Linked DNA regions of Homo sapiens. The protein of the gene in region 6 purifies or fractionates together with the protein of the main gene of each other region. This does not show direct contact. Each region holds a gene or a part of one and is shown on either strand. Other genes may lie near its edges.

The links.
Region 1: the proteins of SLC71A1 (region 6) and MPZL1 purify together in Homo sapiens (affinity purification with mass spectrometry; one large-scale study listed by BioGRID and IntAct). This does not show direct contact.
Region 2: the proteins of SLC71A1 (region 6) and PTPRZ1 purify together in Homo sapiens (affinity purification with mass spectrometry; one large-scale study listed by BioGRID and IntAct). This does not show direct contact.
Region 3: the proteins of SLC71A1 (region 6) and MMP10 purify together in Homo sapiens (affinity purification with mass spectrometry; one large-scale study listed by BioGRID and IntAct). This does not show direct contact.
Region 4: the proteins of SLC71A1 (region 6) and LNPEP purify together in Homo sapiens (affinity purification with mass spectrometry; one large-scale study listed by BioGRID and IntAct). This does not show direct contact.
Region 5: the proteins of SLC71A1 (region 6) and RNH1 purify together in Homo sapiens (affinity purification with mass spectrometry; one large-scale study listed by BioGRID and IntAct). This does not show direct contact.
Region 7: the proteins of SLC71A1 (region 6) and DSG2 purify together in Homo sapiens (affinity purification with mass spectrometry; one large-scale study listed by BioGRID and IntAct). This does not show direct contact.

The regions. Positions count from the first base shown.
Region 1 is NC_000001.11:167,770,482-167,773,981, reverse strand, and holds part of MPZL1 (myelin protein zero-like protein 1 isoform a precursor), read right to left. Parts: intron 1,708-3,500; coding exon 1,494-1,707; intron 747-1,493; coding exon 614-746; intron 1-613. UniProt on the Homo sapiens protein: Cell surface receptor, which is involved in signal transduction processes. Recruits PTPN11/SHP-2 to the cell membrane and is a putative substrate of PTPN11/SHP-2.
Region 2 is NC_000007.14:122,012,661-122,016,160, forward strand, and holds part of PTPRZ1 (receptor-type tyrosine-protein phosphatase zeta isoform 1 precursor), read left to right. Parts: coding exon 1-1,229; intron 1,230-3,500. UniProt on the Homo sapiens protein: Protein tyrosine phosphatase that negatively regulates oligodendrocyte precursor proliferation in the embryonic spinal cord. Required for normal differentiation of the precursor cells into mature, fully myelinating oligodendrocytes.
Region 3 is NC_000011.10:102,777,829-102,781,952, reverse strand, and holds the start of MMP10 (stromelysin-2 preproprotein), read left to right. Parts: upstream 1-1,324; 5' UTR 1,325-1,361; coding exon 1,362-1,466; intron 1,467-2,207; coding exon 2,208-2,449; intron 2,450-2,591; coding exon 2,592-2,740; intron 2,741-3,203; coding exon 3,204-3,329; intron 3,330-4,124. UniProt on the Homo sapiens protein: Can degrade fibronectin, gelatins of type I, III, IV, and V; weakly collagens III, IV, and V. Activates procollagenase.
Region 4 is NC_000005.10:96,939,080-96,942,579, forward strand, and holds part of LNPEP (leucyl-cystinyl aminopeptidase), read left to right. Parts: intron 1-3,500. UniProt on the Homo sapiens protein: Release of an N-terminal amino acid, cleaves before cysteine, leucine as well as other amino acids. Degrades peptide hormones such as oxytocin, vasopressin and angiotensin III, and plays a role in maintaining homeostasis during pregnancy.
Region 5 is NC_000011.10:494,015-497,242, reverse strand, and holds the end of RNH1 (ribonuclease inhibitor), read left to right. Parts: intron 1-2,189; coding exon 2,190-2,360; intron 2,361-2,464; coding exon 2,465-2,552; 3' UTR 2,553-2,728; downstream 2,729-3,228. UniProt on the Homo sapiens protein: Ribonuclease inhibitor which inhibits RNASE1, RNASE2 and angiogenin (ANG). May play a role in redox homeostasis. Required to inhibit the cytotoxic tRNA ribonuclease activity of ANG in the cytoplasm in absence of stress.
Region 6 is NC_000001.11:100,044,595-100,048,094, forward strand, and holds part of SLC71A1 (hippocampus abundant transcript 1 protein), read left to right. Parts: intron 1-3,500.
Region 7 is NC_000018.10:31,543,177-31,546,342, forward strand, and holds part of DSG2 (desmoglein-2 preproprotein), read left to right. Parts: exon of another isoform or gene 1-219; intron 220-2,544; coding exon 2,545-3,166.

The DNA.
Region 1 (3,500 bases), about 68 Mb from region 6:
CACCATCATCACACTGGGCTGGGGGAGGTAGTTTATTAAAACCACTGCTTTTTCTTCTTCTTTCTTTCTTTCTTTTTTTTTTTTTTTAAAGAGACAGGATCTTGCTATGTTGCCTAGGCTAGATTCAAACGCCTCGGCTCAAGCAATCCTCCTGCCACAGCCTAAGTAGCTGGGACTTACAGGCACATGCCACTAATTCCAGCTCACAACTTCTTAATTAGGGTTTTATATTTCCTAACTGGAAAGAACCACCTTGTGAGTTTATTAGCAAGAAATTGAAATTAAACTCTTAAATTGGGTAAGTGATGTCTTAAGAATACTAATTGCATAGTGGATGGTATTGAAACACAGAGCACAGACTGCTGAGCAGCTCATCTCACCAAACCTAAGAAGGAAACTGGAACAGAGATTAGAATCATATTCCACATTTAATAGCAGGCCCACTGATTTCCACTTGCCCATGTTAGAACACCTCCTAAGGAGACTGCCTGATTCTGACATGAAAGAAAATAGTAGTTAATTCTTTAAAATCCTTTTTTCATTAAATACAGAAGTTTCTATAAACCCTGATTCCCTCCCTCCACCCCTGCCCTAAAAAAACAGTGTTTCTTACCCAGTGTAATCCCGTTTAGAGTTTTTCCTTCTATAGAGGACAGCCAGAATCATGCTGATGAGCAGAGTGAGACCTAGGACCACAGCAGTAACTATGCCCACCACTACCCAAACTGGAAACACAGGCAAATTCTCTAGAGAGAAAGAACAAAATAGTTTTAAGGTACATTGCTACAGAGAGAAAACATGGAATTTTATTAAATTAACGAGCAAGTATCTTCATTTAGCAGTTACCGTACCCTCTTTTATTATCCAAACTATGAGATCCTACTATCTATCCTATTACTATGTAATTCATGACATGTGAATATTAGATGAGAAAGAATGAACTATGGAACTAAGCATTTCTACACCTACAATCCCTCTCAGTGCTCTAAAGAAAAACCGGAGGTGTGAATTTACCTGGATCTACTCTCCAACAAAACAGACTTTGTCTCAAAAATGAGACACCAGAACCTGCATTTCCTGTTTGTTCTCAAAATCAAAAGGAAGAAATAACTGTGCTGTTGTTGAAAGCTTTCTCCTGGAGAATATAAAACAGTATGAATCTCCTTCTTTCCCACTGCCCATCACATCCAAACATAATGAATTTGGTCTTTCTTCTAATTAACACTGAAAAATTCATACTCCTGAAATTAGACCAATAGGCACCAGACGGTAGGAATAAAAATGGAGAAATCAGCCACTCTGGGTCAGAATGAGCAACAAGTTTCCCAGCTCCAAGTGTGTTTGGTAGAGCCACAGGTTCGTGGCAACAGGGAGCACAACTGTATGGCAAAAATCCTCCCTCCAAACCCACCATGAAATGCAACTCATGTTTTCCAACCAAACATGAGATAAAGGAGACTGCATTATTACTGCCAAAATACTCAAGGAAGTACCTTTTTCTACGACATAGAGCCTAATGTGTCCAGGCTGGACAACGATGTCAGGAGGGTTTTTGACATCACAGATATAGGTGCCATTGTGTATAAACTGCATATTTTCTATGTTGATTGATGCATCTTTCTTGTCAAGGTCTCCAGCCCAGCTGATTCTGTCTTTAAATGGTGGATAATTCCCAAGGTACACTTGCCCTTGGGAGTAGTGGAAAAACTGCAATTAGAAAAAAGGAACACATGAACTATTCTCAAAGGCAGAATTCCTAAACTCTGTAATGTGCATGCTATGAAAGGTTCTTTTAAAGACTTCATACGGAAAGAAATGCAACATCTCTCTCCCTCTCCCTCTCCCCCTCTCTCTCCTCCTTTTTTCGGTCTCCCTCTGTTGCTGAGGCTGGACTGTACTGCCGTGATCTTGGCTCGCTGCAACCTCCCTGCCTCGGGCTCCTGTGATTCTCCTGCCTCGGGCTGCCGACTGCCTGGGATTGCAGGCACGTGCGGCCACGCCTGACTGGTTTTTGTATTTTTGGTGGAGAGGGGTTTTGCCGTGTTGACCGGGCTGGCCTCCAGCTCCTGACCTGGAGTGTTCTGCCTGCCTCAGCCTCCCAAGGTGCTGGGTTTGCAGATGGAGTCTTGCTCACTCAATGCTCAATGCTGCCCAGGCTGGAGTGCAGTGGTGTGATCTCGGCTCGCTGCAACCTCCACCTCCCAGCCACCTGCCTTGGTCTCCCAAAGTACTAAGATTACAGCCTCTGCCCAGCTGCCACCCCATCTAGGAAGTGAGGAGCGTCTCTGCCTGGCCGCCCATCCTCTGGGATGTGAGGAGCCCCTCTGCCCGGCCACCCTGTCTGGGAAGTGAGGAGCGCCTCTGCCCGGCCACCACCCCGTCTGGGAAGTGAGGAGCGCCTCTGCCTGGCCGCTGTGCAATCTTCCAAGTGTGAAGTGACAGCCTTTCTGCACGTGTACCCAACAGCTCCGAAGAGACAGCGACCATTGAGAACGGGCCATGATGACGATGGCGGTTTTGTCAAAAAGAAAAGGGGGAAATGTGGGGAAAAGAAAGAGAGATCAGATTGTTACTGTGTCTGTGTAGAAAGAAGTAGACATAGGAGACTCCATTTTGTTCTGTACTAAGAAAAATTCTTCTGCCTTGGGATGCTGTTAATCTATAAACCTTACCCCCAACCCCATGCTCTCTGAAACATGTGCTGTGTCAACTCAGGGTGAAATGGATTAAGGGCGGTGCAAGATGTGCTTTGTTAAACAGATGCTTGAAGGCAGCATACTCGTTAAGAGTCATCACCACTCCCTAATCTCAAGTACCCAGGGACACAAACACTGCGGAAGGCCGCAGGGACCTCTGCCTAGGAAAACCAGAGACCTTTGTTCACGTGTTGACCTTCTCTCCACTATTATCCTATGACCCTGCCACATCCCCCTCTCCGAGAAACACCCAAGAATGATCAATTAAAAAAAAAAAAAAAAAGAAATGCAACATCATATTACAAATCACAAGTTATGGAATCTAAGCCAGACAGAAGTTTAGAGATCACGGCACTCAACCCTGCCAGGTTTCAATGGAAGAATCAGACTCATATATCACCTCTAATCCTCTCAATATTTCATTGATATAATTATTACCACCCATAATTTTATAAAAGACAAAATGGAGACTTAAGAGAAGCCATTTTCCCAAGGTACCAATGATAGTAAATTGGGGACCCAGAGTAAAATTTAGGCCCATCTGAGTCTTCAAAGCCAATGTTCTTCCAGTAACACCATGATTGAGCCCAGTGATTCCCAAGGCTTCAGAAAGCTTAGTGTTGAGTTAGCTTACCACTAAGATACACAGAAGCACAAAGGAGAAGAATCCTAAATATCTCAGATCAGCTAATCTGAGTTTCGCCCTCTTCCTTCTGGTTTCCTATGGAAAAGTCATGGGTGTGTGAAAGGAACAAAGCCCAGATAACACAAGATACTCTTGCCGGCTTTTGAAAGTTCAGCCTT
Region 2 (3,500 bases), on a different chromosome or scaffold from region 6:
TCCAATATTGGTTGAAACCCCCAAAGTTGATAAAATTAGTTCTACAATGTTGCATCTCATTGTATCAAATTCTGCTTCAAGTGAAAACATGCTGCACTCTACATCTGTACCAGTTTTTGATGTGTCGCCTACTTCTCATATGCACTCTGCTTCACTTCAAGGTTTGACCATTTCCTATGCAAGTGAGAAATATGAACCAGTTTTGTTAAAAAGTGAAAGTTCCCACCAAGTGGTACCTTCTTTGTACAGTAATGATGAGTTGTTCCAAACGGCCAATTTGGAGATTAACCAGGCCCATCCCCCAAAAGGAAGGCATGTATTTGCTACACCTGTTTTATCAATTGATGAACCATTAAATACACTAATAAATAAGCTTATACATTCCGATGAAATTTTAACCTCCACCAAAAGTTCTGTTACTGGTAAGGTATTTGCTGGTATTCCAACAGTTGCTTCTGATACATTTGTATCTACTGATCATTCTGTTCCTATAGGAAATGGGCATGTTGCCATTACAGCTGTTTCTCCCCACAGAGATGGTTCTGTAACCTCAACAAAGTTGCTGTTTCCTTCTAAGGCAACTTCTGAGCTGAGTCATAGTGCCAAATCTGATGCCGGTTTAGTGGGTGGTGGTGAAGATGGTGACACTGATGATGATGGTGATGATGATGATGATGACAGAGGTAGTGATGGCTTATCCATTCATAAGTGTATGTCATGCTCATCCTATAGAGAATCACAGGAAAAGGTAATGAATGATTCAGACACCCACGAAAACAGTCTTATGGATCAGAATAATCCAATCTCATACTCACTATCTGAGAATTCTGAAGAAGATAATAGAGTCACAAGTGTATCCTCAGACAGTCAAACTGGTATGGACAGAAGTCCTGGTAAATCACCATCAGCAAATGGGCTATCCCAAAAGCACAATGATGGAAAAGAGGAAAATGACATTCAGACTGGTAGTGCTCTGCTTCCTCTCAGCCCTGAATCTAAAGCATGGGCAGTTCTGACAAGTGATGAAGAAAGTGGATCAGGGCAAGGTACCTCAGATAGCCTTAATGAGAATGAGACTTCCACAGATTTCAGTTTTGCAGACACTAATGAAAAAGATGCTGATGGGATCCTGGCAGCAGGTGACTCAGAAATAACTCCTGGATTCCCACAGTCCCCAACATCATCTGTTACTAGCGAGAACTCAGAAGTGTTCCACGTTTCAGAGGCAGGTTAGTTACGGATCAGAAGGACAGATTGAGGTGTGGTGGTTTGCTTGCTCTAAAAGTAAAATGAAAATTATAGAAAGATAGAAATTTGGTAAAATGGTACATCATCATTTTTAAAATCAAAACATTCAACAAATCAGTCTCCAGTTTCTGAAGTATAATTTTATTTATTATTTCAAACAATTATTTAACACATTTTGGTTTTTAATTTAATTCTCTCCAAAATAGACAAAACAATTTTTATTTATTGTCAATATTTCATACTCTACAGGATGTCTTTTATGGGTGGGGGCAATTCTGTTTGCATAATACATTTTTAGTACACTGCTTTTAAAGCAAGATCAGAGTATGCTATTTTAGATGATTTTAATTTTCATACTTTTGTTCTAAAATAAGTTGTAAACTAATTCTATTTAATTATAAAATGAATTATTAAATCTGAGAGTAATGTGACATAAGCACTTCTCTCTGACACACCCCTGTAGAAAGGAATTAGTTAATTTCCACATTCATATCAGCTTGGGGAGCTTTATTTATTATTATTATTTAATTAATTAATTAATTAATTTTGAGACGGAGTCTCGCTCTGTCGCCCAGGCTGGAGTGCAGTGGTGCAATCTCGGCTTACTACAAGCTCCGCCTCCCAGGTTCACGCCATTCTCCTGCCTCAGCCTCCCGAGTAGCTGAGACTACAGGCGCCCACCACCACGCCAGGCTAATTTTGTGTATTTTTAGTAAAGACGGGGTTTCACCATGTTAGCCAGGATGGTCTTGATCTCCTGACCTCGTGATCCACCCGCCTCGGCCTCCCAAAATGTTGGGATTACAGGCGTGAGCCACTGCACCAGGCCAGGGAGGTATTTATGTATTTATTTATTTATTTAGTTTTATTACTAAGTTTTGAGAGTTAATAATGAAGTTAAAAAAAATTTTAATTTTTTTGTCTTTCTTTATCTTAATGTTGCCTAAAGAGGGCAGTGTAAACCATCAAAATACATTTTACTTTATGCCTGCTGTTACACACTTTTTTAAGTTAAATAATGGGCATTAATATGTACAGTATGTATAGGTATTGTATCACAAGATGTAAAACACTAAACATTTTTCTGTAGAAATGAATTTCATTTGTGAATGTATTTTATGCAAATTAGCTTACTGACCAGATGTTTCTTAGAGCAGATTATGTGCAGTGTTTATAATACAGATGTCTGCTTTAAATGCCAATGGAAAGAAGAGGGAAGTTCAATCCTATTAAGTATAGAAAAGTAATACTTTCATTGAATTGGTCATAAGAATTTTATAATTTGCTTTTATTAAATGTGAACGTATCTTAAAGTTTAATAATGAAACTATTTAAATCTTAACATCAAGTTAAATGATAGGCTAATGTAACAAAATGCACTCATTGTATAAAAGTGAATATTTGTAATCCAGAACATAGACATCAGTCTCATTAGAATATTTTTCCTCTTTGCGATTTCATCTTTTTAATTAGTTGTATATTTTTTCTTCAGTGCAGCAGCAATTAAAAGTTTGTACATTTTGATAGAAAACTTTTTCTGTATTCTGAATTGATACCTATTTAACATTGCATTTTAAACACTTAAATGCTGATATGTGAGAATGAATAATGAATCCATAGGTCACTATAGTCATTAGTGCTGTCATATATATGAACTGTTATCTGTTCTCAATTATAGTAGCTGCTTTTTAGTTTTCATTAGATTTATGTTAAAAGAAAATATCAGGAATCCATCTATCTGTCTTACCAGGTAGTGACATTGATACGTTCTTGCTAGACTATGCTATTATAGAAGGATATATATAATGAGATGCTAAACCTAAAATTATTGACTAAAGCTTAGCAAATTTCTCTTCAGTGCACTAATTAGTTTTATTTAATTATCAAGAGTGTGTTCTCCCACTAATTAGGATAAAACAATATGAATATGACATCCAACATTATCAAGTAACATAATTAGTGAAGTAAATAAGATCAAACAAGATTAGGGGAAAATTCTGGCCTATTTTTAAAACTGTATCTATAAAATCATATGTAATCTGTCTTATCCAATAATTGAATATATCCCTTTATCAAATGCATGCAGACTAGCTCTGAAACTTAAGATTTTATGGTGTATTTCTAGAATGCAGAACAATTTACAGGATGTGTTCTTTAAAATACTATAGATAAGGCAAATATTAGTATCCACAATTTATAAATGAGTACACTGACACCCAAAGATACTAGATTATTTGATCCAGGTCACATGA
Region 3 (4,124 bases), on a different chromosome or scaffold from region 6:
TACTTGCTCAATGTCCAGCTGACTTTATTTGAGTCTAGTTGTCAGTCCTTCTCCCTCTGATATTCAAGCTGATGTCACCACACTGTAGAGCAAACTCTTTGGCAACAGTAAGTCACAAGTTGACTTGGCTGGCTCAGTGTATATCCCAGTTTCTCTCCAACTCTGGCTTGGAAGTCTCAGAGCCTCTTGGTTCCTGGAAGTCTCACCTGTCCAGGCTACCTTAAGTAGGGTGGGGATGGTGGGCGATACTGAAAAGATCATTCCTACACACTTATTATTTTAATCTCTCATCACTTTGCAATTATGTACTTCAGACATGGTAGAGTTAATTTATCTTTAGTGAGAGAAAAATATAGTTCTTTACTATAAGAATTTCAGGGTTCTTTATATTAACAGGTTAATTTGACAAAACAGTTATTGCAGACTTACTGTGTTACTGCGTAAAAAGCACTTTATTTGGCTGAGAAAACAAGAAAGAAAATACTATTTGTGGGCAGGGGTGGATCGTTAGACATGTGAAAGAAAGGGAGGATTTGAAATCATTTCCCATTACAGATCTCAATCCATCTCCTCCTTTGTACCTTAAGAGGAGAAAGAAAGGGGGAAAAGAATTTTTAAAAGCAAAGAAGAGGAAGAGGGTAGGAGGACCATTTCAGTCTAACATGCAATTTAATTTTTTCCATTTAACAAGTTTTATGGAGCAGTTACTTTGAACATAATTATACACTGGGAAATGGAGAATGAGTGAACACCAAAGCTTCTCTCTTTGGATTCTTTTCTCTACATGCTCCATGTCCTTCTCACAATACCCCTACTCCACGGCCAGTAAATCCATCTGAAAATCAATAATAGCTATTGTAAACAAGGACTCAAGAAGTGAAATATTTGTTTTAATATCTTTGTAAATAACAACTCCCACATTTAGACCACGACTATATTTGGAATTTATTTCCGTTGACCTACTTAATTCTTACCTGCTTATATTTAAGTTTAAAACATAATCTTCTTAAAAGAAAATTGCACTGATTTTAAAATGTCAAAACATTTGGCATTTTACCAAGCTTGTCAGCTCTCTTTAAGTAAATACAGAGACGTGAATTATCTAGCCAATTCTTTTTCGTCTTTACAAACACAGAAATCATTTCCTGGGGATTAATCATTCTTTCAAGTTTAGAAAGTTGAAGGAAAATACTGATGTAGGCTGTATCACCATTACATTAAATGTTTGTGAACATTCAGACTTAAAAAACACATGCATGAATCATACTGTTGGTGATCTCAGCATTGTCTCTGTATAAAAGAAAGGCCACTAGGGGGTAGAGCTAGAAGCCCAGTAGACAAAGAAGGTAAGGGCAGTGAGAATGATGCATCTTGCATTCCTTGTGCTGTTGTGTCTGCCAGTCTGCTCTGCCTATCCTCTGAGTGGGGCAGCAAAAGAGGAGGACTCCAACAAGGATCTTGCCCAGGTAATTAACGGTGGCATCTATTGCAGCTACTGGCCAGCTCAATTGTGTCTACTTGGTCTTCCAATACAAAGCAGAATGATTAGACTAGAGATCACTTTGTTAGAAAACTGTAGCATCAGAGAATAATTAACAGGCTGGAGGTGGAAATTATTTTTATGTTAACAGAGAAGAAAAGAAAGGTTCAGAAAGGGAATATAACTGCTCAAGGTTACAATAAAATAGTAGCAGTATATTTGTGGCTAAGTGAAAAGAACATATGGAGAATATATGAAACTCCTCTGGCTTTAGAATTTATTTAGTTAAAATTATTGGGGAGGGGAGCATGCTAAGTTTGATCTTTAAATCATATCAGGTAATAGTTTTCATATTTTTACTTGTCATATTTGGACAAAAGAGTTTACCACACTTCAGTCTTAAACCAGGTCTATAATAACAATGTAAGTAGAAAAGGTTAGTATTCTAACTTTTCACAAAACTATGTTAAAAGAGGGTTTCTTTAAAAACTAACAAAAATAATGCTAGACTTGAATTTTCAATCCCCAATTCCTTACTTGACTAGCAAACTAACATTGCAATAAAATTTAAAAATTTGTATGAAATGGGGAGTCTTAATGAAAAATCAAATTAAATGTGATAGCCTCTTTTGTTTTAAGAAACTAGAGGAAAATTACGATGGATTATAAAAGTTGGATAAATGATGGAAAATCACAAAAATGCCCTAAAAATTCTATTTTCCATTAGCAATACCTAGAAAAGTACTACAACCTCGAAAAGGATGTGAAACAGTTTAGAAGAAAGGACAGTAATCTCATTGTTAAAAAAATCCAAGGAATGCAGAAGTTCCTTGGGTTGGAGGTGACAGGGAAGCTAGACACTGACACTCTGGAGGTGATGCGCAAGCCCAGGTGTGGAGTTCCTGACGTTGGTCACTTCAGCTCCTTTCCTGGCATGCCGAAGTGGAGGAAAACCCACCTTACATACAGGTAATGGTTCAGATTAGTTTTCACATAATATTGAAACCTTATAAGTTACTCGTCATATTTGGATAAGTAACATAAAGTTTTCTTTAACAATTTTTCATAAAGGCAGGAGAAAATAACATCCTCTTCAATTTTTCTCCTCCAGGATTGTGAATTATACACCAGATTTGCCAAGAGATGCTGTTGATTCTGCCATTGAGAAAGCTCTGAAAGTCTGGGAAGAGGTGACTCCACTCACATTCTCCAGGCTGTATGAAGGAGAGGCTGATATAATGATCTCTTTTGCAGTTAAAGGTAATCAAATAAAGCATCCATTTATCTGGTGTATTCATCTGTTCAGACTGCTATAGCAAGTTACCTTAGACTGGGTAATTTATAAACAACAGAAATTTATTGCTCACAATTCTGGAGGCTGGGAAGTCCAAGATTAAGGTGCCAGCAGATTTAGTGTCTGATGAGAGCCTATTCCTCATAGATGGTACCTTCTGTGTCCTCACACGATAGAAAGGGCCAGGAGGTTCCCTCAAGCTTCTTTCATAAAAGCACTAATCTCATTCATGAGGGCAGAGCACTTACGACATAATCACTTCCTAAAGACCTAACCTCTTAATACTATATTTCATTGGGCATTGAGTTTCAACATATGAATTTGCAGCAGACACCAACATTCAGACTATAGAATCTACTGTTGTTTAATTGGAACAGGGTAAAAAGAAATTCTGAACACTTATATTTCCATTAATTTGTTCCCTATCAGAACATGGAGACTTTTACTCTTTTGATGGCCCAGGACACAGTTTGGCTCATGCCTACCCACCTGGACCTGGGCTTTATGGAGATATTCACTTTGATGATGATGAAAAATGGACAGAAGATGCATCAGGTGGGTCGTAAACCTCTCGGGAACATTTCAGGAATAATGTCCAATCCTACCCAAAAATAATTGGATTATCTAGAACGAGCAATAAATCGAATATACTAGTAACTGAATTTTTTTATTACCTGAGTTTTAAACAGAAGTACTGTTTGTTTCAATCATTATTGAAGAATTTTATAAAATGTCTGTATTTTCATGTTTGCCCCCACCAAGTACAATATTGTAAAAACCATTCAACCTCATCTCCACAACTCAGGATCTTGTGGGGGTTTGAGGATCAGCATAATTAATAATGTTTTTCATCACTTTAATGATAGATGATTAGGATAGAATGAATTCCATTAAACCAGTTCCAATCCTAACATTTGCCCTCAGGTTTTCTTTCTTTCTTCTCATTGGCCTCCTTTTTACTTAAAAGTAGAGATCAGGAGAAAATGCCAGGAACTGAAAAAAAACTGTTAGGTCATCTTTTCGAATAAACATGTCACTGTCTCTAGCTTAGATGGGTTTTTTTCGCCCTAAATTGGCTTGGAAACACTTTACATCTAAACATAATGACTAAAATTAACTGTATGCTATTTAATTTTTAAAATGGCTTCTGAAGTTTAGAAACACACTGTTGAAATAATCACTATTTCTGACAGTGCCTGGGATTTTTAATGTAAATGCAAAGAACATCTTTCCTGAGTACAAGACTCAGGAGGCTGAGGCACGAGAATCACTGAACCCAGGAGATGGAGGCTGCAGTGAGCCGAGATTGTACCACTGTACTCCAGCCTGGGCAACAGAGTGAGACTCTGT
Region 4 (3,500 bases), on a different chromosome or scaffold from region 6:
TTTGCATGCAGGGTTGGTATATTTTGTAAAAACTTAAATTCATCTTAAGAAATGCAAATGCTAAGGTTCACCCTCAGAATCTGATTAAGGAGGTCTGATTATATATGAAATACATACTAGAAAGTATGTATACTTTCTTTTTTTTTTTTTTTGAGACACAGTCTCACTCTGTTGCCCAGGCTGGAGTGCAGTGGCACAATCTCAGCTCACTGCAACCTCTGCCTCCCGGGTTCAAGTGATCCTCCTGCCTCAGCCTCCCGAGTAGCTGGGATTACAGGCGCCCGCCACCATGCCCAAATAATTTTTGTATTTCTAGTAGAAATGAGGTTTCACCATGTTGGCCAGGTGAACTCCTGACCTCAAGTGATCCGCTCACCTTAGCCTCCCAAAGTACTGGGATTACAGGCATGAGCCACCGCGCCCAGCTGAAAGTATATATACTTTCTAGTTTGTGATATATTCTAAAGTATATCTAAAGGTTGGTATTTTGGCATTTTGAGGTCCCAGAACTGAAAACATAAATAGTTTTTTTTTTCATATGAATGTAGGTCCTATGAATCACTTTTATTACCGCAGTGTGGTGCATAATCAAACAAGGAGGACTTAGTTGTCTTAAAAAATTATTTTTGCTTTCATGTTCAGATTGGTATCCAGTTGAAAGTATTTTTCAACTTCAAAAATGGGAAGTCTGGGCAACAAATGAGATATTTGTGGGTTGTAATACAGTATAAAATTGTGATTCCATCTTTTAATCTTACAAATAACAATTGTTCTATAGATATGTGAGTCTTTTTAAAAAAAAATTTTTAGCATCACTTCTCAAAAATGTGAGCATACCACATTTTGTTTTTATTTTTCTTTTGCTCTATGATAAATTTCCACATTGAAAGACAACTCTTAAGAAATAGGAGCTCATAGTTTCTCTGTGTGATGGAATATAAGTTAAATCCTGTTTTTATCTTTCTGTCTTAAGTTTTTAATTTTATTTGGGGGAAATAAGACTGTTAGGAATTAAGTGTTAGCATCACTAACAATCTAGGGTTAAAGCTATAGCTAGAAACAGCCCAGTTTTTAACTGGAAACTAGTGGTAGAAAAGTTCTTTGCTATTACTTGCCAGTTTCCAAAAACTGTCTTGATACATGCATAAAAACAGCATATTTTAGAAACTCTTATAACCGGTGATTATCATTTATCTGTAGGTTATCCTTGAGAACTCAGCCTGAAAGATAGATAACCAGAGAGATTGGTTATAAGGAAATTATATAGAAAATAAGTGGTAATTTTCTGCTCAGTAATTCAATCATACAGCTATCTTTTGAATGCCCATTTACAAGTAGATTTTCTGCTAGACACAGTTACATTAAAAAAAAAAAACCCACAACCTCGTCATCAGATAATGCTTACCTAAATAAGAGAAATGAATAGAAGAACCTAGTTTTGTTGTCATGCTAATATGAAATATGGAAACACAGAAGAAATAAAAAAGCAATAAAGTTTTGTCTAAGACAGTATTCTAATTATGAAATAAATGTACAGAAACTGTTCATAACTGTTTGCATGTCTACTAATTTAGTGTAATACTCCTATTAGGAAACAGCAGTATTAACCCTGTCTATGAAAACATTAGGAAATTGAGATTTGAAAGAGTTTAGCCAAGATTACCCCAGATGTTGGGATGGACCTAGATGAGGCCTGTGGTTCTTGGCAGTCGAGGTGAGGTCAGTGCAGCTATGTTTTGTCAATTAGTCACCTCATGACTTGAAAACTGTAGGGCAGCAGTCCCCAAACTTTTCGGGACCAGGGACCACAGTCGGGGGGATGTATGTATACTTTCTAGTTTGTGATATATTCTAAAGGGGAGAAGGTTTGGGGATGACTCAAGTGCATTATATTTATTGTGCACTTTATTTCTATTATTATTGCATTGTAATATACAATGAAATAATTATACAACTCACCATAATGTAGAATCAGTGGGAGCCCTGAGCTTGTTTTCCTGCAAGTAGACAGTCCCATCTAGGAGTGGTGGGAGACAGTGACAGATCAGGCATTAAATTCTCAAAAGGAGCACACAACCTAGATCCCTCACATGCGCAGTTCACAATAGGGTTCGTGCTCCTATGAGAATCTAATGCCACCACTGATCTGACAGGAGGTGGAGCTCAGGTGGTAATGCTAACGATGGGGACTGACTGTAGAGATGAAGCTTCACTTGTTTGCCTGCTGCTCACTCCTGCTGTGTGGCCTGATTCCTAACAGGCCAGAGACTGGTACTGGTCTGTGGCCTTGGGGTTGGGCAAACCTACTGTAGGGGGCTGGAGTTGAGCTGATACTACTAGGCCTTTCCATAGTATAATTGGAGCAACCAGAAAGACACAGTCTTTTATTTATTTATTTATTATTATTTTTTTAATTTGAATCCGTAGATAAATTTCAGCAACTTTTCTGAAAGTTTGCAAGAAGCCAGGATTGAGAATGAAGGGACATTTTGGAGCCCTTGTGGTGGTACAGTTCTTTTTATATCTAGATCTTGACCTAGATCTACATATGGCCGTTATAGAGAGTGTTGCTTATTGCCTTGGTGTTTCTGGACAGTAAATGGAACATCAAGAGTTCTCTGTGTCCATGGAAGGGTGGACAGGATTCCCTTGTAACCTTATCCATTGTTGTAATTCATTTGTGATTGTCCTAGCAGCACCTGAAGGACTTTGCATTTTACAAAGATGTTTAGAGAAAATTGGAAGAGGAGAATCAATGATGAAGATGAAAGAAATGTGGAGATTGGGGGTAAAGGAAGAAGCTGATAGGCAGAGATTTTAAAAATGGTCATGCCTTGATCCTTGCAAGTCTTTGGTTCAGAAATGAGCTTCAGTTGGAGAGCAGGACACTGTTGTATGAGGTTGAAGACAGAGTCTAGGTTGGAAGGGGACAGGTAGGTAGGTCTGGTTGGATTAATGGAATTGGGGGCTCAGGGGACAAATGAGTTAAGATTGGCATTTGGGAGCCTTGCCAAGAGATAGAAAACATTTGCCAGAAATTTAAGCATACTGTCTTTTTTATAGTCAGAAAATTCAGTCACTCGTAAGTTGGGACTGTTCACTTGTCTGAATGTTTTAGATTTAAAGAAAAAATATAGCTCTTTGATAAACAACGTGGTGTGGAGCTGTGGTAAGCCTGCTCTTGCTCCTGACTCACCGCCGCTCGCTCTCACCAAAAAACAGGTTGGTCAGGAGATACAGAAAAACGCCCATGAAGCCAGAGGTGGCAATTCACTGAATTAGAATCACTCTAGGCCCAGCGCGGTGGCTCACACCTATACTCCCAGCACTTTGGGAGGCTGAGGCAGGCGGATCACCTGAGGTCAGGAGTTTGAGGCCAGCCTGGCCAACATGGTGAAACCCTGTCTCTACTAAAAATACAAAAATTAGCTGAGTATGTTGGCACGTGCCTGAAATCCCAGCTACTCGGGAGGCTGAGGCACAAGAATCACTTGGACCCA
Region 5 (3,228 bases), on a different chromosome or scaffold from region 6:
CCGTGTGTGAGCACATGGGCGAGAGTACGTGAGCACATGGGTGAGAGTGAGCACGAGTGTCCGTGTGTGAGCACATGGGTGAGAGTGAGCATGAGTGTCCATGTGAGTGTGAGCACATGGGCGAGTGAGCACGTGAGTGTGGCACATGGGCGAGAGTGAGCACGAGTGTCCATGTGAGTGTGAGCACATGGGCGAGAGTGAGGGTGCATGTTCATGTACTGGGAAAGGCGGGCTGGCGGCACCACTCTGGCTTAGTTCTCATTTTAACTCTGAAAGTCAGAGGTCATGTTTCATGAAGCCTGAGAGCTTCACGGAGCTCCAGCCTACCTGGCCACCCTGTGGTCCATCTTCCTGGAAGCCCCGCCCACCTTTCTCCCTTGCGGGAACCCCGCCTGTGTCAGGATGTTTTTCCAGATTTGTTTTCTTTGTTAAAGCACGTTCTTTTGCAGCTTTCTAAGAAAAGGTTTTGCAGGAGGTAATTTTTGGGGTCTTGTGCCCCTGTTCTGTCCTTGGATCATTTAGCCGGGTATAGCATGCACCATTATGCCCGGCTAATTTTATTTTGTTTGTTTTTTTGAGAGAGTCTTGCTCTGTCGCCCAGGCTGGAGTGCAGTGGTGCGATCTTGGCTCACTGCAAGCTCCGCCTCCCAAGTTCATGCCATTCTCCTGTCTCAACCTCCCGAGTAGCTGGGACCACAGGCGCCCGTCACCACACCAGGCTAATTTTTTGTACTTTTAGTAGAGATGGGGTTTCACCGTGTTAGCCAGTATGGTCTTGATATCCTGACCTCGTGATCCGCCTGCCTCGGCCTCCTAAATTGCTGGGATTACAGGCGTGAGCCACCACGCCTGGCCTAATTTTTGTATTTTTAGTAGAGATGGGGTTTCACCATGTTGGGCAGGCTGGTCTTGAACTATTGACCTCAAGTGATGAGCCTGCCTCAGCCTCCCAAAGTGCTGCGATTACAGGCGTGAGCCACTGTGACCTTGTGTGCACGATCTGCTTTTTCTCGTTGGCAGCTTTTCAAGCTCTCTTTGTTCACTGTGTTAGGGGTTCCATGTGCTTGGCCTTGATGGGGGTCTTGGTTCTTTGTGCTGGATACTTGGTTCTACTAAGAAAATATACCTTTGGTGATTTTTTTCTCTCTCCTTTCTTATGTTTCTTTTTTGGTGTGCCCATGAGCCTGTCCTGATGTCTTGTGGAGTGACCCTCTAATTATGTTCTCCAAATTTTCTTTTCGATGTTTTGTTTTATTTTTGGGAGATGTTCTCATTTACCAGCCAGTCTACTGAATTTCCACCCTCAGTGTTTTGTCTTTTGTTTGCTGTTTCCCGTGTGCCTCTCGCCAGGGGCTTTCCGTGGGTGGCTGGTCATCCTGGGCTGGGCACCAGGTGCAGAGTGAGGCCCGGGAGCCCTGGACAGTGAGCCCTGCAGGCCGAGTCATGGCTGCGTTTCTCGAGGGCTTCCTCCTGATGGGGGATTTTCAGTTCCCTGCCAGGGGACACCATCCTGGCTGCCAGGACCTTGTGGGTGTTCCAGATGTGGAGAGGAACCTTGGGTCCTGGTCACTGCAGACTTGTTCCCCCTGAGCCACTCACAGGGTGGGGGTCCTGCAGCTTCCCTGGCCCCCACCTTGGAGAGGTCCAGTGCAACTCCTTGGCCCTGCTGTCCGGCCTGTGGCGGCTCCACCCCGGGAAGTGGGTGTTGGGTCTTCTCTATCCCATCCTCTTTTGTCTGACCCGTTCTCTTGTCTCTCTCTGGAGCCTAAAGTCTGTTGTCCACTCTGTTCTTGTCTTGGTACCCTCCATACCCTCGTTTCCCCACAGCTGCTCCTCAGTCTCTGGCTGGCTTCTCCTTTGAAGCCCACGCAGCCAGACGGTGTCGAGGTGACAAGGGGGTGGGTGTGGCTCTCTGGGTGGACGACATCTCTCTCCTGTCCTTTCTCCTCCCTGCAGAAGATCTCAGGCGAGTGAGGCTGCTTGTGCCTCGCTTGTCTGTGCCTTCCTTGTCCGTGGTGGGGAACCTGCCCAGGGCCACAGGGACGGTGAGCCTTGGGGACGGCCCCACCTGAGGGTCCTGAGTTGCCGAGCACAGGTGTCCGTCGCGCCCCCCAGGCCCAGGCCTGCTCTGCCGGTCAGTGCGGTGCCAGGCACGCCCGGCACCCTGACCCCCGCCCTGCTTCACCCAGGTTGGCCGACTGCGATGTGAGTGACAGCAGCTGCAGCAGCCTCGCCGCAACCCTGTTGGCCAACCACAGCCTGCGTGAGCTGGACCTCAGCAACAACTGCCTGGGGGACGCCGGCATCCTGCAGCTGGTGGAGAGCGTCCGGCAGCCGGGCTGCCTCCTGGAGCAGCTGGTGTATGTGCACGCGCTGGGCGGGTGGTGCGGCCAGGGCTGCCCAGGGAGGAAGGCGGGGGTGGGGGAGGACACGGGCCCATGCCTCCCTTCTGGCCTGTGTGCAGCCTGTACGACATTTACTGGTCTGAGGAGATGGAGGACCGGCTGCAGGCCCTGGAGAAGGACAAGCCATCCCTGAGGGTCATCTCCTGAGGCTCTTCCTGCTGCTGCTCTCCCTGGACGACCGGCCTCGAGGCAACCCTGGGGCCCACCAGCCCCTGCCATGCTCTCACCCTGCATATCCTAGGTTTGAAGAGAAACGCTCAGATCCGCTTATTTCTGCCAGTATATTTTGGACACTTTATAATCATTAAAGCACTTTCTTGGCAGGAGAGGCTCTTGTCCTTCCTGGGGTCCTTGCGAGGCGCTGGCATTGGAGACGACACCACCCCACTTGGCTTCTCTCCCTGCCTAAGGGACCCCGCACCAGGGAAGCAGCCCAAGGCCCTGGCTGTGCTCAGCTGGGTCCCCTGAGCTGCACCCACCCACACTGGGGAGCACAGGGCAGGCCCTGCCCAGGGTGGAGGGATGCCCCTTGGCTCTGTTGCCCGTGCAGGGTGACGCCTGCTGGGAGCTGCCTGCAGGCCCAGCTGCTCCCGCAGCTTCCACCCCGGAGCCTCAGGAGCCCCCAGCACTGCCCTGACTGCCCCCCAGCCCAGCCCAGCCCAGCCCAGCCCAGCCCAGCCCAGCCCAGCGCGGCCCAGCGCGGCCCGGGTTCCTGCCCGGAGCCCAGTGCTCGCCCCAGCTCTGTGTGGGATGATGGGGCAGCCCATCTTGCCCACGGGTGGACAGCTGACCAAGGTGGGCCAGCCCGGGGTGCCCTGCCCTG
Region 6 (3,500 bases):
AACCTCTGCCTCTCAGGTTCAAGCCATTCTCCTGCCTCAGCCTCCCAAGTAGCTGGGATTACAGGCACACACCACCATGCCTGGCTAACTTTTTTGTATTTTTAGTAGAGACGAGTTTTCTCTATGTTGGCCAGGCTGGACTCAAACTACTGACCTTAGGTGATCCACCCGCCTTGGCCTCCCAAGATGCTGGGATTACAGGCATGCCTAGGCGGCTATAAGTATTTTGCTTTATTTCTGGGTTATCTGTTGTGTTCCATTGGTCTTCATGCCTATTTTTATACCAGTACCATGCGGTTTTGGTAACTGTAGCCTTTTGTATAATTTAAAGTCGGGTAATGTGATGCCTCCAGATTTGTTTTTTGCTTAGTCTTGCTTTGGCTATGTGGGCTCTTTTTTGGTTCCATATGAATTTTAGGATTGTTTTTTCTTGTTCTGTGAAGTATGATGCTGGTATTTTGATGGGAATTGCATTGAATCTATAGATTGTTTTGGTCAGTATAGTCATTTTCACAATGTTGATTCTTCCCTTCCATGAACATGGGATGTGTTTCCCTTTGTGTCATTTATGATTTCTTTTAACAGTGTTTTGTACTTTTCCTTGTAAAGATCTTTCACTTCCTTGGTTAAGTGTATTCCTAGGTGTTTTGTTTTTTTTGCAGCTATTGTAAAAGGGATTGAGTTCTTGATTTGATTCTCAGCTTTGTCGTTGCTGGAATATAGCAGTGCTATTGATTTGTGTCATTGATTTTGTATCCTGAGACTTTACTGAATCGTTTATCAGATCTCGGAGCTTTTTGGATGCGTCATTAGGGTTTTCTAGGTATACAGTCATATCATTGGCAAACAGTGGCAGTTTGATTTCCTCTTTTCCAATTTGCATGCTCGTTATTCCTTTCTCTTGTCTGATTACTCTGGTTAGGACTTCTAAATTTTTTAATTACTATGGGTACAAAGTAGATACAGATATTTATCAGGTACATCTGATATTTTGATACAAGCATATGTTGATACAGGTATACAGTGTATAATAAATCAGGGATACTGGGGTATCCATTACCTCAAACTTTTATCATTTCTTTGTGTTAGGAACATGCCAATTCCACTTTTATTTTATTTTATTTTTTATTTTTTGAGACAGAGTCTCGCTCTGTCGCCCAGGCGACATACATAGTACAGTAGTGTACTCCAGCCTGGGTGACGGGGAGACTCTGTCTCAAAATAAATAAATAAATAAATAAATCTGTTCAGACTAATGTCCTAGAGTGTATTCCCAATGTTTTCTTCTAGTCGTTTGTGGTTTCAGGTTTTAGATTTAAGTCTTTAATCCATTTTGATTTGATTGTTGTACATGGCAAGAGGTAGGGGTATAATTTTATTCTTCTGTATATGGATATCCACTTTTCCTAGCACCATTTAGGAGACTATCCTTTTCCCAATGTATACTTCGGTGCCGTTGTCAAAAATGAGTTGACTGTAAATGCATGGATTTATTTCTGGGTTCTCTATTGTGCTCTATTGTCTATGTATCTGTTTTTATACCAGTATTATGCTGTTTTGGTTACTATCACTTTGTAGTATAATTTGAAGTGAAGTAATGTGATTCCTCCAAGCCTCGTTTTTTTTTTTTTTTTTTTTTTTTTTTTTTTTGAGACAGAGTCTAGCTCTGTCGCCTAGGCTGGAGTGCAGTGGCGCAATCTTGGCTCACTGCAACCTCTGCCTCCCTGGTTCAAGTGATTCTCCTGCCTCAGTTTCCCGAGGAACTGGGATTACAGGTCCCACCACCACGCCTGGCTAATTTTTGTATTTTTAGTAGAGACGGGGTTTCACTTTGATGGCCAGGCTGGTCTTGAACTCCTGACCTCAGGTGATCCGCCCGCCTTGGCCTCCCAAAGTGCTGGGATTACAGGCGTGAGTCACTGTGCCCAGCCTCCAGCCTTGTTCTTTTTGCTCAGGATTGCTTTGGCTGTTCTGGCTCTTGTGGTTCCATATAAGTTTTAGGATTTAAAAGAAAAAATTCTGTGAGGAATGTCATTTGTAGTTTGATAGTAACTGCATTGAATCTGTAGATTGCTTTTGGTAGTATTAAAATTTTAACAGTATTGATTCTTCCAATTTATGAACATGAAATATCTTCCCATTTGTGTGTGTGTCCTCTTCAATTCGTGTCATCAATGTTTTGTAGTCTGTAGACATCTTTCACTTCTTTAAGTTTATTCTTAGGTATTACATCTGTAGCTATTGTAAGTGGGATTATTTTCTTGGTTTCTTTTTCAGATATTTGCTGTTGGCATATAGAAATGGTACTGATTTTTGTATCCTGCAACTTCAGTGAATTTGCTTCCATTCTGATAGTTTTTTGGTGGAGTATTTAGGGTTCTCTCTATATAAGGTCATGTCATCTGTAAAGAGGGACAGTTTTGACTTCCTGTTTTCTAATTTGCATGCCTTTTATTTCTTACTCATGCTTAATTGCTCTAGTTGGTACTTTCCAGTACTTTGTTGAATAAGAGTGGCGAAAGTGGGCATCTTTGTCTTGTTCCAGATCTTTGAGGAAAGGCTTTCAGGTTTTCCCTGTTCAGCATGATAGCTCTGTGTCTGTCATATATGGCTTTTATCATATTGAGGTATGTTCCTTCTATACCATTTTTGAGAGTTTTTATGAAGCAGTGTTGAATTTTAGTAAATGCTTTTTCATCATTAATTGAAATGATCATTTTATTTTCCTTCATTCTTTTGAAATGATGTATCACCTTGATAGATTTATGTATGTTGGACTATCCTTTCATACCTGGATGAATCCCACTTGAACATGATGAATGATTTTTTTGTTTTTAATTTTTTTGAGACGGAGTTTTGCTCTTGTTGCCCAGGCTGGAATGCAATGGCGCAATCTTGGCTCACCGCAACTTCCGCCTCCCGCGTTCAAGCGATTCTCCTGCCTCAGCTTCCTGAGTAGCTGGGATTACAGGCATGCGCCACCACGCCTGGCTAATTTTGTATTTTTAGTGGAGACGGGGTTTCTTCATGTTGGTCAGGCTGGTCTTGAACTCCTGACCTCAGGTGATCCACCCGCTTTGGCCTCCCAAAGTGCTGGAATTACAGGTGAGAGCCACTGCGCCCGGCCGATGAATGATCTTTTTTAAGACCTCCTTCCTGAAGGAGGTTTGCTAGTATTTTGTTGAGGATTTTTGCATCAATGTTCATCAGAGATATTGTCCCATAGTTTATTTTGTTTTTCTCCATGCTAGTTTTAGGTAATTTTTCTCTTAAATAAACAAAGCATTTTCCTCCTAAAGTGCAAGCATGCTTATTAGAAAAGATATGGAAAATTCAGAATAGCATAGTAAACAATGTGATATCACTTAAAATCATTACCTAATATAAATTTTATTTACATTGAGGTCAGTATTTATTGTTTTTCAGAGTTGAAATTACCCTACCTATACATGTTATATCCTACTTTGATTTTTAAAAAAATTAGCATGCTTTAAGCCCTG
Region 7 (3,166 bases), on a different chromosome or scaffold from region 6:
AGATTGTACCTGGGAAGCTGCCGTCCTTGTGACCCAAAGAAAAGAACAAGGCAGAACCAGGCAATGGCTCTCAAAGCCTCCACCTTTTTACACCACATTTCATTGACCAAAGCAAGTCATATGACCAAGACAGATGTCAGTGGGTCGGAAAGTTGCATCCCTCTGCAGGAGCAGGCTTGGTAGGGATGAGCTCCGTAGGAGAGGCAGAGGATATATAACCTAAAAAACACAATCTATTAAGTCCATTTAAATTTTACCTTCTGTATGAGAGTACTTGGCTTTGCTATTATGAGGGTCCACCAAAAAATGATGAGAAAAGTTCCAGGAAGATGATCAGATGCAATAAGGAAGCTCATGCTAGAATTGAGGAATTAGAAGCAGAACTGAAAATAAAAGTATAATGTAGAGGTCAGGCACAATGGCTCATGCCTGTGATCCCAGCACTCTGGGAGGTCAAGGCAGGCAGATCACTTGAGCCCAGAAGTTCAAGACCAGCTTGGGCAATATGTTAAAACCCTATCTCTCCAAAAATACAAAAAATTAGCTGGGCATGCTGGCACACACCTGTAGTCCCAGCTACTCAGAAGGCTGAGGTAGGGGGATCACTTGAGCCTGGAAAGCCAAGGATGCAGTGAGCTGTGATCATACCACTGCACTCCAGCCTGGGCAACAGAGTGAAACTCTGTCTAAAAAAAAAAAAAAAAAAAAGTATAACATAGAGATAAAGTATACTTCAGAACAAGGAATATTACCAGGAATAATGAGGGATAGTTCATAATGAAAAATGAGTCAGTTCATCAGGAGGCCTGAAACTCCTAAATATGTCAGAACCTAATAACAGAAATTTTTAAAACTTAAAGCAAAAACAACTGAAAGAGAAACAGACAAATTCATAATGATAGTTGGAGAGTTCAACCTGATCTATCAGTAAATGAAAGAACAAGTGACAGAATCAGTAAGCATATAGAAAACTTAGTACTGTGAACCAAATGGATCTAGTTGATACTGACAGAACACTCTATGCAACAGAAGCAGAATACACATGCTTTTTCATATAGACTGTATTCTAGAACATTAAATAAATGTAAATAACTTTTAAAGAACTGCAGTCATACAATGTACTTTGATGAAAAAAAAATTAAAACCAGAGATCAGTAACAAAGAGATATATAAAATATACTCAAATATTTATAAATACACATGACTGCAAATTAAATTATACTTCATGAAAATTTGTGGGGTACTACTAAAGTGATGCTTGAAGGGAAATTGTAGCAAAAATGGCTATATTAGAAGATGGTTCTCAAATCAGTGACCTAAGCTTCCACCCTCAGAAGTTAGAAGAGCAAATTAAACCCAAAACAAGCAGAAATAAGATAATGATGAATTTTAGAGCAGAAATCAATGAAATATTTAGCAAAAAGTAATAAGAAAAAAAATTGAAGCCACAAGCTTATTATTTAAAGAGGTCAATAAAATTGATAAACATTTTACCAGACTAATTAGGATATTAAGAGATTAAGCACAAACTATGGATGTTAGAAATAAAATAAAGAACTTTACTACAGATCTTACAGACATAGTAAGAATAATTTTTTAAAAAGTAGGACTGGGTGGTTTTCTTGAGAACAAGGCCCTGTGCTCCCATGAGAATGGACAGAGTTGGAATATAAGGCATCTGAAGGGCCCTAGAGAGGAGTAAGGGGAGGGGCTTCCATTGAGGAAAGCAAGTTACTTCTGTCCCCCTCTTCTAAATTTGCAAATTATTAGCGTGCTTTCCCACTTTCTGCTCCTTTTTAACCTCCCATCTTTCATACCATCCTTCACCCACCTTCAAGTATTAGCTTAACAGGGATGTGGGTGGTGTCAAGCAAAACCATTTCTTGGCCTTTCCTGTCTCACTGCTAAGCTCAATTCTAGCGTCCTGTTTGTTTTCTTTTGGTAAGTTTTCCCTCTCTCCACTCTAATCCTGCTCCAGTCATTCTTGGTTATGTATGTGTGTACTAACTTTTGATTTGGAAGTAATTTCAAAGTTATCAGAAAATTTGCAAGAATAATAGAAATTTTGAACCCAATAAACATTTTGCCACATTTGCTATTTGCTTTTCCATTTTCTCTGTCTCTCTCTCACTGACACACATTCACACACATTCTCTTACATTACTATAGTACAGTTAACAAATGTAGAACTTTAATATTGACATAGTCCATATTTCAGTTTAGCCAACTATCACACTATCTTTTACAGCAATTTTGTTTTTCTCAGGATCCTGCATTCCATTTAGTTGTCCTGACACTTTAGTCTCCTTTAATCTGAAACAGTCCCCTCTGCCTTTCTATTTTTTCCCTGATATTAATTTTTTTTAAGAATACAGTCCAGTTGTGTCGTAGGATCTCTCTCAATTTGTGTTTCCCTGATGGTTCCTTGTAATTAAATTCACATTACTGCATTTTGAACAGGAATATAGAGTCTTGTTTTAAAATGAATTTATATTGCTAATTATTTGTCTGTTTTGTGTTTGTTTTGTTTTGTTTTCATTTTAGAAAGCGGCCTCTTACACTGAGGAAGATGAAAATCACACAGCCAAAGATTGCCTTCTGGTTTATTCTCAGGAAGAAACTGAATCGCTGAATGCTTCTATTGGTTGTTGCAGTTTTATTGAAGGAGAGCTAGATGACCGCTTCTTAGATGATTTGGGACTTAAATTCAAGACACTAGCTGAAGTTTGCCTGGGTCAAAAAATAGATATAAATAAGGAAATTGAGCAGAGACAAAAACCTGCCACAGAAACAAGTATGAACACAGCTTCACATTCACTCTGTGAGCAAACTATGGTTAATTCAGAGAATACCTACTCCTCTGGCAGTAGCTTCCCAGTTCCAAAATCTTTGCAAGAAGCCAATGCAGAGAAAGTAACTCAGGAAATAGTCACTGAAAGATCTGTGTCTTCTAGGCAGGCGCAAAAGGTAGCTACACCTCTTCCTGACCCAATGGCTTCTAGAAATGTGATAGCAACAGAAACTTCCTATGTCACAGGGTCCACTATGCCACCAACCACTGTGATCCTGGGTCCTAGCCAGCCACAGAGCCTTATTGTGACAGAGAGGGTGTATGCTCCAGCTTCTACCTTGGTAGATCAGCCTTATGCTAATGAAGGTACAGTTG